Homo sapiens: one gene and its partners. The protein of the gene in region 3 purifies or fractionates together with the protein of the main gene of each other region. This does not show direct contact. Each region holds a gene or a part of one and is shown on either strand. Other genes may lie near its edges. The genes, in order: PFDN4, COPS7A and DDB2.

Evidence for each region.
Region 1: the proteins of DDB2 (region 3) and PFDN4 purify together in Homo sapiens (affinity purification with mass spectrometry; 4 studies listed by BioGRID and IntAct, with this or other methods). This does not show direct contact.
Region 2: the proteins of DDB2 (region 3) and COPS7A purify together in Homo sapiens (affinity purification with mass spectrometry; 7 studies listed by BioGRID and IntAct, with this or other methods). This does not show direct contact.

What each region holds. Positions count from the first base shown.
Region 1 is NC_000020.11:54,214,492-54,218,143, reverse strand, and holds part of PFDN4 (prefoldin subunit 4), read right to left. Parts: intron 2,847-3,652; coding exon of another isoform or gene 2,845-2,846; coding exon 2,704-2,844; intron 1-2,703. UniProt on the Homo sapiens protein: Binds specifically to cytosolic chaperonin (c-CPN) and transfers target proteins to it. Binds to nascent polypeptide chain and promotes folding in an environment in which there are many competing pathways for nonnative proteins.
Region 2 is NC_000012.12:6,727,039-6,729,850, reverse strand, and holds part of COPS7A (COP9 signalosome complex subunit 7a), read right to left. Parts: intron 1,926-2,812; coding exon 1,850-1,925; intron 1,629-1,849; coding exon 1,540-1,628; intron 605-1,539; coding exon 402-604; intron 1-401.
Region 3 is NC_000011.10:47,231,868-47,235,519, reverse strand, and holds part of DDB2 (DNA damage-binding protein 2), read right to left. Parts: intron 2,707-3,652; coding exon 2,561-2,706; intron 948-2,560; coding exon 848-947; intron 764-847; coding exon 586-763; intron 251-585; coding exon 108-250; intron 1-107.

The DNA of each region.
Region 1 (3,652 bases), on a different chromosome or scaffold from region 3:
AATTTTTTTTCCTAAACATGACAAAAAAATATGAAATCACACAAACCAAATACCCACTAACATTAGAAACCAAAGAATATCTAATACTGACAGTGTTGCCGTTTTAGAAATCTAGCCAATGGTTCTCAAACGGTGGCCCCGAGACCAGTGTCAGGGACAAAATCACCTGGGAACTTGTTAGAAATACACATTCTGGGGCCCTACCTCAGCCCACCTGAAAGATCGTCTTTGGGTCGGGCCCAGCAACCTGGATTTTTAACAAGCCCTGTGGTGACTGTGATTCTCACGCATGCTAAGTTTGAGAATCACTGTTACAAAACAAGAAACAAAAATAAGACATATGGCTACTAGAAAGGGATAAATTCTAAATTTCTATACCGAGAAAACCTGGTTAATAAGTAAAATAAGACACTAGAAAGTCATTTTAATATCGCAAGTCCAATCATCTCTCTCTTTTCCAAAAATCTCTGAAGGCTCCTCTTTGCTCTGGGACGGGAGTGGGCAAACTATAGCCCACAGGCCCAATCTAGCCTGAAGCTTGTTTTTGTCAAGTTTTATTGGAAGACAGCCACGCAGATTCACTCATCTTGCTTTCATAGTAATTATGGCAGAGGCTGTGCAGCCCACAAAACCTAACGTATTTACTTCTGGCCCTTCACAGAAAGTTTGCTGACCCCTGCTAAGACAAAGTACAATTTCTTCAACTCAACTGACTGGAGTTCTCCAAGATGTGGCCACAATTTCAGGTGCTCCCAATCTCCAGCAAATACATCTTCTTGCAGGTCTATGTTTGCACCACCGTCATCCTATGGCCGTTCACACATGTTGCTTCTCACGACTAGAACCCCCCGCCCCCCGCCGCCCCTTTCTGGCTAATAGCCACTTATTCCTCAGCTGTTATCCCATCACTTTCCCTGGGAGCCCTTCCCTGACCCTTGATGTCCAGACTAGTGTAGATTCCTCTTCCTGTGTTCTTAAAGCCACCTCTATCCTCATATCACTTTCTACTCATTATCAGTTTTGTTTACTTTTTTTTCTTTCCATCTAGACTATATGCTCCATGCAGGCAGGGGCCAGGCAGGTTTTGTTGTCCCCAATTATCCCTAGTACATGGCAGAACCTGATACAGAGTAAGCACTCCATTCATTCTAGAATTCTAGAATGAGTAAAAAAAGAAAGGTTCAGCCGGGTGTGGTGGCTCACGCCTGTAATCCCAGCACTTTGGGAGGCTGAGGCGGGTGGATCACGAGCACGAGGTCAGGAGTTCGAGACCAGTCTGCCCAACATGGTGAAACCCTGTCTCTACCAAAAGTACAAAAATTAGCTGGGCGTGGTGGTGGGCGCCTGTAATCCCAGCTACTCGGGAGGCTGAGGCAGGAGAATTGTTTGAACCCAGGAGGCAGACGTTGCAGTGAGCCGAGATTGCGCCATTGCACTCCAGCCTGGGCGACAGGGCAAGACTCCATCTCAAAAAATAAATAAATAAATAAATAAATAAAATAAAATAAAAGTTCAGTAGCTATCTGTGTATGGGGCAGGGGATTCACAATAGCCACAAAAACCATAAGCTATCTGGGAATACTTCCAATAAAAATGTTTTTTAAATGGTTAAACAAATAAAAAGAACAAAAATCACAAAATTTGACCAAGAAGAAAAGATTTAAACATAAGGGAGACATATAAGATTTATGCATGGAAAGACCCAGGAGTGATAGTTCTTCTGAAGACTTACTAAATGTGGGTTTCATTCATACGAAGTTTTGCTTTTTATGACATTTGAAGAGAGACTATCATTTTAAGCAATCAGGTTAATTAGCAAAAGCATTAGGAAAGGTTTAATTGCCATCTGCTTCTCATAGACAAACAACGTGGCTGTCCCTCCCAAATAGTAAGAAGGCATGTGAACTGAAAATTTCATACCATGTATCAAATGTCTCAGATATTATCAGAGAACTCATATGCTGACTGACCCAGTAATTATATTTCTCTAATTATTTCCTCAAAACAATTTTCTAAATGTGAACAAAGATTTATGTAGAAGAATGCTCACAGTAACATTAGTACAGCAAAATATTGGAAACAAATTAATGCTAACAATAAGACCCGTGACCCCAATTGATAACCATCAACATGATATTAAACAGTCTTCAAAAACGATGTTTTTAAAGGCCTGTGTGCCAGGCTCAGAGCAGGCTTCCAATGAGTATCTGCTGGACAAACAAACATTCAATGAAACCAGCAAAAATGCTCCTCCTGGAACATTAATTGTCCCAACTGGGAAGCAAACTACACGGAGAGAGGCAGAGAGAACATAAAAGAAATACAGGAAAATGTTCACTATGAATGGTTACCTCTGCATAGCAGAATTACAGGGGATTTTTCTTTTCTGCTTCAATATATGCTATACCTTCTAAATACTTTTAGTTTTGAGCAAGGTTCTGGAGTCAGAAGACCACTGTCTATGTGTCACTTTGAATAAATCCCATAACCTCTCTAAGCCTCTATTCTTTGTCCCTAAATTGGGATAACAGGTCATCGTTATGATTCAACAAAATCCTGCTGGCAAAGCATTCGGAGCATGCCTGGGACATAACAAGGCAGTAAATATTAGCTATAGCTAGCATCTACTATTTCCCTACATCTATAATTACATGTTCTTTATAGTGATATAAATTCTAATTTCAGAATTAACCTTTAACATACCTTTGCTTCTTCTAACATTTCTTGCGTTTCTTCTTGAGAATGGCTAATGAAGACATCACCAATTTGATAAGGTATCATTAAGCAATCATCATCTGCAAGCATGATGTCATCACAAGCATCTTCTAGGTTTTGGAGTTGTTTCTATAAATGCAAAATGGCAAAGAAAATGTACTCAAAGTTCTCTGATAGAAGCTAAAGGCCAATTGTAATTTGGGGACAGCAACTCTCTGAGGGACCCTCTCACAAAGGTATTATTACCACATTAGAATAAGACCTTAATTTGTAACTTTTTAGAAGACATTTCACAAGCAAGCACTTAGAGCTACCTAAAGCTTTGTCCTCTGGACAATAAGCGCCCTGTGGTGGACAGCAGGCACATGGTCACTCAAAATTTCTTCTATTTTAACAATTTTTGACTTTGTGAATTCTGCCTTCCTACAAAAACAAAACCAAAAAAACCAGCCTACATTTCTCAGCCTTGCTTGCTGATAGGGTGTAAGTAAATCATGCGGGTAATGAAAGTTCTGCCAGCATGCATAAGTGATAATAACTTCAATTCCACCAATCAAATGCATTTGAGCTGGATTTCAACTCAAGGGGGACGGCTGGACACAGGCCCCAGATTTACTGGGGTAGGTGGCACTGGCAGCAGCAGCTTGGTGTTCCTAAGTCTGCAAGGGTGGCTTCCTCATTGGGAAGACAGCTGACTCTGGGATCAGTGGAGGCAACAGCTGTTCCACCGCCAGCCAAGTTCTCCGAGACTTGTTCCTGGAACCTCGGTCTAGACTCAAGCTCCTCAACAACTCTGTAAGTTATCGCATATCCCTTAAAAAAAAAATGACTTTCTGCTTAACTAGAGTGGATCGCGTCATTCATCTGCAACAAACAGCCCAGAGAAATATATATTCACTTGTTAACTGAGTTCAGTTTTAGTAGCTATAGTATAAAA
Region 2 (2,812 bases), on a different chromosome or scaffold from region 3:
AAGAGGTGACTTAATGAATACAGAAACCCTGAAGTTAGATGGGGACACAAAGAAAATAAAAAAGAGGAAAAGGGTCATGGCCTGTGGATAATGGTAGTTACAGATCAATCGACAGAGTCTAGCCTAAGACAGGCGACCGACCTTGCTGGTTAGGATCCCCTTAAGTATACCACTCCCTTTTCCTCCCCCAACTACTATATCAAGGACACTGACTTCTGCCGCCTCCCAGGGCCTCCCCTACTCCTGCATTCCCCAGAAGCCTTTGGAGGGATGAACTCATTTCCCTTCATCCTCTTGGGTTCCACCTCTGCGGACCAGCCCAGCTCCTGCCCTCTCTCACCCTGAAGCGCCTTTCTCTTTCTCAGGGTGAGAAGGGGACAGTGCCAGGATACGGTTCTCACCATTCCTGCAGGGTTCGGGCAATGGCACTGAGGTCCTGGCGCTGGATGTCCCGCCCGATGCTGTAGTCAACCTCGAGCCGCTGGTTGCGCTGGTCCAGGGAGCCACGAAGCACGTCAGCATACACAGCCTCAATCACAAGGTCTTCCAGCTGCCGCACATTACGCAGGGCAAGAGCCTCCAGCAACACTGCATATGGGATACACTGGGGCCGCGGAGATCAGGCCAGGATTTGTGACGCTCCGTAGTAGAGAAGGGCTTCCAAAAATCTTCCCTCCTTTTCCCCCTGCCCTAGCCCACCTGCCCTCCACTCCCATTCCTAAATCACTTCCTCTAAGAGGCTGGTTCTAAAGCAAAATAAATAAAAGTATTCCCACTTCAAAAACAGCATCATTAGAAGGACAATCTTAAATAAAATACAAAATGCTCCCCTAACACCCTCACCCCTGACACACCACAGAAGGAGAAAATGACATCTGCCTGGGTGTCACTCCTTTAGCCACAGCTCAGGGTATCACCCAGTCCTTAGTCAAGATCAGCTTGATACAGGGGAGTAAGCAGAAGTGGGAGAGGTGTGGAGTTACTGTTTATCATTTATACTCTGCCTACCTGCAACGGGCATTCCTTTGGAGGTATCTCTCAATAGAGAGCCTGGTTTAAATTAAATCCCAAGGACAACTGAGAGTCAAGTAACTATTGCGAGGTTGCAGACTGGGCAGGCTGGGGAGGTGGGTGGTGATATTAGACAAAAAACAGCCTAACAGGAATACAGAGATACTTCTAGAATATATATGTTTTATCCTAACAAAGAGAAGCCTAGCACTTCATCAGGAGAGCCCTGTTTCCAGCAGTGGGGAAGAAGGTATTGTTGAACGACACCTGAACAACATCCTAGTTGCTATTTTGACCAAAACCACAGAAGATGTTTATTTAGAACTTAAGTTGATTAAAAAATAAAAACAACACAGAAAACTAAGAATACTATCAGCCTAAACAGTTGCTAATGGAGTTTATATACAGACCTTGGAGGAGGGGAGGGCAGGAAGCAGCCACGGTCTAGACAAGGGCTGTCCTAGTGTGGACTCCCAAGGACATACAAAAGGATGCTCTAGACCGTAGGACTGGGGGACTGCCACTCACCTTTACTTTAGCAGCCAGGGTGACAACTGAGAGGTGTCGAAGCTTATTCTTCTGAGCCTCTGTTAGTGGAGGAAGATTCCGGGCTTCAGCTAGGGAAAAACGACAAAGTGTAAGGAATCCTGATTTCAGTTTTCTGGGAAGCCCTAGCCTCCTTCCCTTCCCTCCCACTTTCAATGCCAATTCAGGTCTTGACCCTGACCCTATGCATCCAGGGATCTAAGTGGGATATCCCAGGAATTTCTTCTGAGTCCCTCCAGAAATTGCCCTTCTCCCATCTCCATTACTCCAGAGCACCAACCCCTCTGGTTACCTAAGTAGTCAGCGTATGTCCCATAAGCAAACACTGTGAGCAGCCGGAAGGTAGAGGCAAAGTCACTCTCAGCCAGCTGCGAGAATGAGGAAAAAGGAGGTGACGGGAAGTCTTCCCTCTCCACCCTCCCAGCCTTACCCTGTTTGGAACTCCACTTTTTGGCCCCATCTTTCCCGGCCAATGTTAACTCTCCTGGCTCACCAAAAGGAGTTCTCTGCCTCTCTGATCACTCTTCACATAGGAAGGGCTCATTTCCACCTTCAGGCTTTTGTTTACACTATTCTCCCAAACCACAATGCCCTCTTGCTCCATACGTCATCCAATTCCTACCCTAAATTCAGAGTTGAAGACATTCAGTTTTCAGAGTCAAACAGACATACACACCAGACACTGCAAATTGTGTTGCCTGCCCTCAGAGTGTTTGATGTTTCTAAATTGGAATATGTCTAGACAGTCTCCAGTACTCCCCAATTCACCAGACTCCTGCCTCAGCCTCACTCATCTCTGACAGCTGCACAGCCTAGAAAGACATCTAAACTTATGGTCTCTGCTTCAGACACACCTGACCAGGACACTGTCTTGCATCACCCAGCCCAGTCCACCCAGATTTCCTCTCCTCCTATCATGGATCACTCATTCTGGCACTTTTTTTTTTTTTTTTTTTTGAGACAGAGTCTCCCTCTGTTACCCAGGCTGGAGTGCAGTGGCGCGATCTTGGCTCACTGCAACCTCCGCCTCCCAGGTTCAGGCAATTCTCCTGCCTCAGCCTCCCAAGCAGGTGGGATTACAGGCGTGCACCACCACACCAGGCTAATTTTTGTATTTTTAGTAGAAACAGGGTTTCGCCACATTGGCCAGGCTGGTCTCGAACTCCTGACCTCAGGTGATCCACCTGCCTTGGCCTCCCAAAGTGCTGGGATTATAGGCGTGAGCCACTGTGCTCAGCTTCATTCTGGCACTTAA
Region 3 (3,652 bases):
TCTGGGGTGGCAGGCTTACCACATCAGCCCTTCCCCACTGTGGGCAGACCTGCTCCGGCCTCATGATCACAGCCTCCTTCTGCGAGCTCCTTCCCACCGCCACTCACCTTGATGGGTGTGAGGTGCTGGAAGTGACGGTGAGGGTGCGGGATCAGGCCCAGGGGGCAGTCCCACTGGGAAGCAGAGTAAACTCGGATCTCGCTCTTCTGGTCCGTGGTCAGGAGCCGGGCTCCATCGGGACTGAAACAAGCTGGCAAAGTGAAAAGCCCCTGAGCTGAAGGAACCACAAGCCCTCTGTGGTCCTGGCCTTGCAGGCCTTCTCCTGCAGGGGTACTCTCCCTCCCACTCCTCTCTAGACAGGAGCGGAAAGGAAGAGGTGAATCTGGGCTGTGAACAACAACAAAAAAATTCTGGAAACTCAGCAGCTGATGGGGACAGCCACAGCCACAAAGGTTCCCAGACATCAGCTTGGCAGACGCTATCAGGGGTAAAGGTTTGACGTAGTGGCTTCCACACTGAGGGAAAACCCCAGCAGTGGTCAGACAGGCAGGGTCTGCAGGAGAGATGAGGTCTGGGATATCACACCTGCGTTGACAGGATGCCTGTGCGGCAGCGAGTAGAGGAAGCTGGCTTTCCCTCTAACCTGGCGCAGGTCCCAAATTTTCACTGTTTGATCTACGGAGGCTGTGGCCAGGAACCAATCACAGCATGGGTTCAGGGCCACATGCGTCACTTTCTTTTTGTGCATTCTGAGATTCCAAAGCTGCAGAGAAGAGCTCGGTTCAGGTGGGGACACAGAACCGAGGTGGGGGTGAGGGAGGGAAAGGCAGGACCTCGGAGAACGCACCTCTTTGCCGTCCATGTTCAGCAGGATCACGTTCCCCACGTTGTCTCCTGTGACCACCATTCGGCTACTAGCAGACACATCCAGGCTACAAAACCAGATGCTGGAGGGAGAGACTGTGTTGTAAGATTCTTGGGGACAGAGATAGTCCTATTTACTCACTGTTGCCGCTCCGGTGACTAACCCACAGCGGGCATTCAATAAATATTTGTTGAATGAATGAATAACTGTCTTGCCGTGGATTCCTAGTGAGGAACATTCAGACTGCTCTACCGTCCAGACAGAGGGGATGGGATAATGGGGCTCAGAAATCTGTCTGGTTATGGCTGGGCCCAGGATCCCCAGCTCCTAAAAGTCCCTGAAGCAGACAAAGCTTATACCATAAAGCAAGCCCTGAGGCACGCCTGCCCCCCACACCCCGGGTTCTGAGCAAGCCTCCTTTACTGCTCTCTCCTTTCACTCTTCACCCTTTAGGCCAAAGGAGACACAAGCCAAAGAGGGATTGCCTGGCCCTGTTCCTCAGAGCTGGCTAGAAAAGCACTTCTGCCCCCTTCTGAACACTGGGGGAAAAAACACAACCAGGAGCTCTTCTGGTCCCTCAAACCACTGGACTGGGAGGCTGACTAGGAGGGTGCTTCAGGGATCCTGCTATTCAGCCAGAAGAGCTCAGCTCACAGTTTTTCTCTCAAACTCTCAAATCCATGCTACACTGCCTTTTGCCATCCCCTATGAATATCTTCAAGCAGGAAGATTTCTTGCGGAAGAGTAGCCTGGAGCCTTGTCTATCCAATTGCCTGCTGATTTGCGTGCGCATGCACTCCTCATCCCTGCGGGACAGCCCAGGATCCAATCCAATGCTAGTTACACCCCAGCACCCTCACTTAATTCCTCAGGGAGCAGTCAGAGTCACGGCTCTAGCTGGAAATCAAAGTGACGAGTATTCTGTAATTTTTTTTTTTTTTTTTTGAGATAGATTTTCGCTCTTGTTGCCCAGGATGGAGTGCAATGGCGCCATCTCGGCTCACTGCAACCTCTGCCTCCTGGGTTCAAGCGATTCTCTTGCTTCAGCCTCCCAAGTAGCTGGGAATTACAGGGGCCTACCACCACGCCCAGCTAATTTTTTGTATTGTTAGTAGAGATGGGGGTTTCACCATGTTGGCCAGGCTGGTCTCGAACTCCTGACCTCAGGTGATCCACCCACCTTGGCCTCCCAAAGTGCTGGGATTTCAAGCATGAGCCACTGCACCCGGCCGCATTCTGTAATTTCTCCAGCCACTTTCTCTTGGGAAGTCCAGAGCACTTTATGGAAAAGATTCCATCCATATAAGCTTCCACCCAGGAACAGGTCAGGTCATTACACCACAGTGAGTGCAGGGCATTCAGTCTCAAGTTCTGAGCTGTTGCTCCATTCTCTAGGTGGCTTTCTGGGTCCACGCCATGCTGGCTTATCTAGTGAGGGTCAAGGTCCAGTCTAATACAGGTATGACTTACAGAAGAGCTGAGGCTCCAGAACACCTTCCCAAAGCAGTAACCCACCTGGACCAAAGTGAGGGCAGCCAAGGAGCAGTTTGAGAAAGAGAAAGAAGGGCGGAAAGTGGCTGACATCTTTCCTTTCTTCCCTGGGCCAGGTTGGGTTAAGGAAATGGGATCTGGATGCTCTTGCCGGAACTACACCTAAGCTTAGAAGCCCTTTCCCCTGCTAGTTAAACTACTCACTTGATGGTGTCTGAGCTGGCAAAAACTCGTAGAATGTTGCCTTTAAAGTCTTGCAGCCTAGTTGTTCCCTCCATTGAGGAGGCGTAAAACTGGTTGGTATTGAGAGGGTTAAACTTCAGCCCAGTGATGCTCCCTCCAGCTCCAATCTAACACGAGGAAGGAAAAAGCCAGTGAGTGATGATGGGCCTGGCCGTGAGGAACCAGGCCTGGGCACACATGCTGCGCCGTCACAGAAGCACCCCTCGAGCAGCGCTTGGGGCCAGGTCAGCTTAGACACTAGGACGCTCTCTACAGGGCCTTCACTTCTTTTTCTTTTCCTTTGAAATAGGGTCTTTCTCTGTCACTTAGGCTGAAGTGCAGTGGCACAAACACGGCTCACTGCAGCCTCAATCTCCTGGGCTCAAGCGATCCTCCCACCTCAGCCTCCCAAGTGCGTGCCACCATGCCCAGCTAATTTTTCTATTTTTTTTTTTTAAGATGGGGTTTTGTCACGTTGCCCAAGCTGGTCTTGAACTCCTAAGCTCAAGCGATCCCCCTGCCACGGCTTCCCAAAGTGCTAAGATTACAGGCATGAGCCGCTTTGTCTGGCCCCTTCATTTCTTTCTTTTTTTTATTTTTATTTTTATTTTTATGTTTTTGAGATGGAGTCCTGCTCTGTCACGACCTCGGCTCACTGCAACCTCTGCCTTCCAGGTTCAAGCGATTCTCCTGCCTCAGCCTCCCAAGCAGCTGGGATTACAGGTGCCCACCACCACGCATGGCTAAATTGTATATTTTTAGTAGAGACAGGGTTTCACCATGTTGGCCAGGCTGGTCTGGAACTCCTGCCCTCAGGTAATCCGCCACCCTTGGCCTCCCAAAGTGCTGGGATTACAGGCGTGAGCCACCGTGCCCCGCCTCCCTTCATTTCTTAAGGCTTTATTTTTACTTTTTTTTTTAATTAACATATAGCAAATTTGGGATATAAAGTTCTCTGAATTTTAACATATGTATAGACTTAAATAACCACCACCCAAATCAGGATGCAGAACATTTGCAACAGCCCAAAAACTCCATCGTGGTATCCCATTGTAATCACACCCTCCCCTCGCC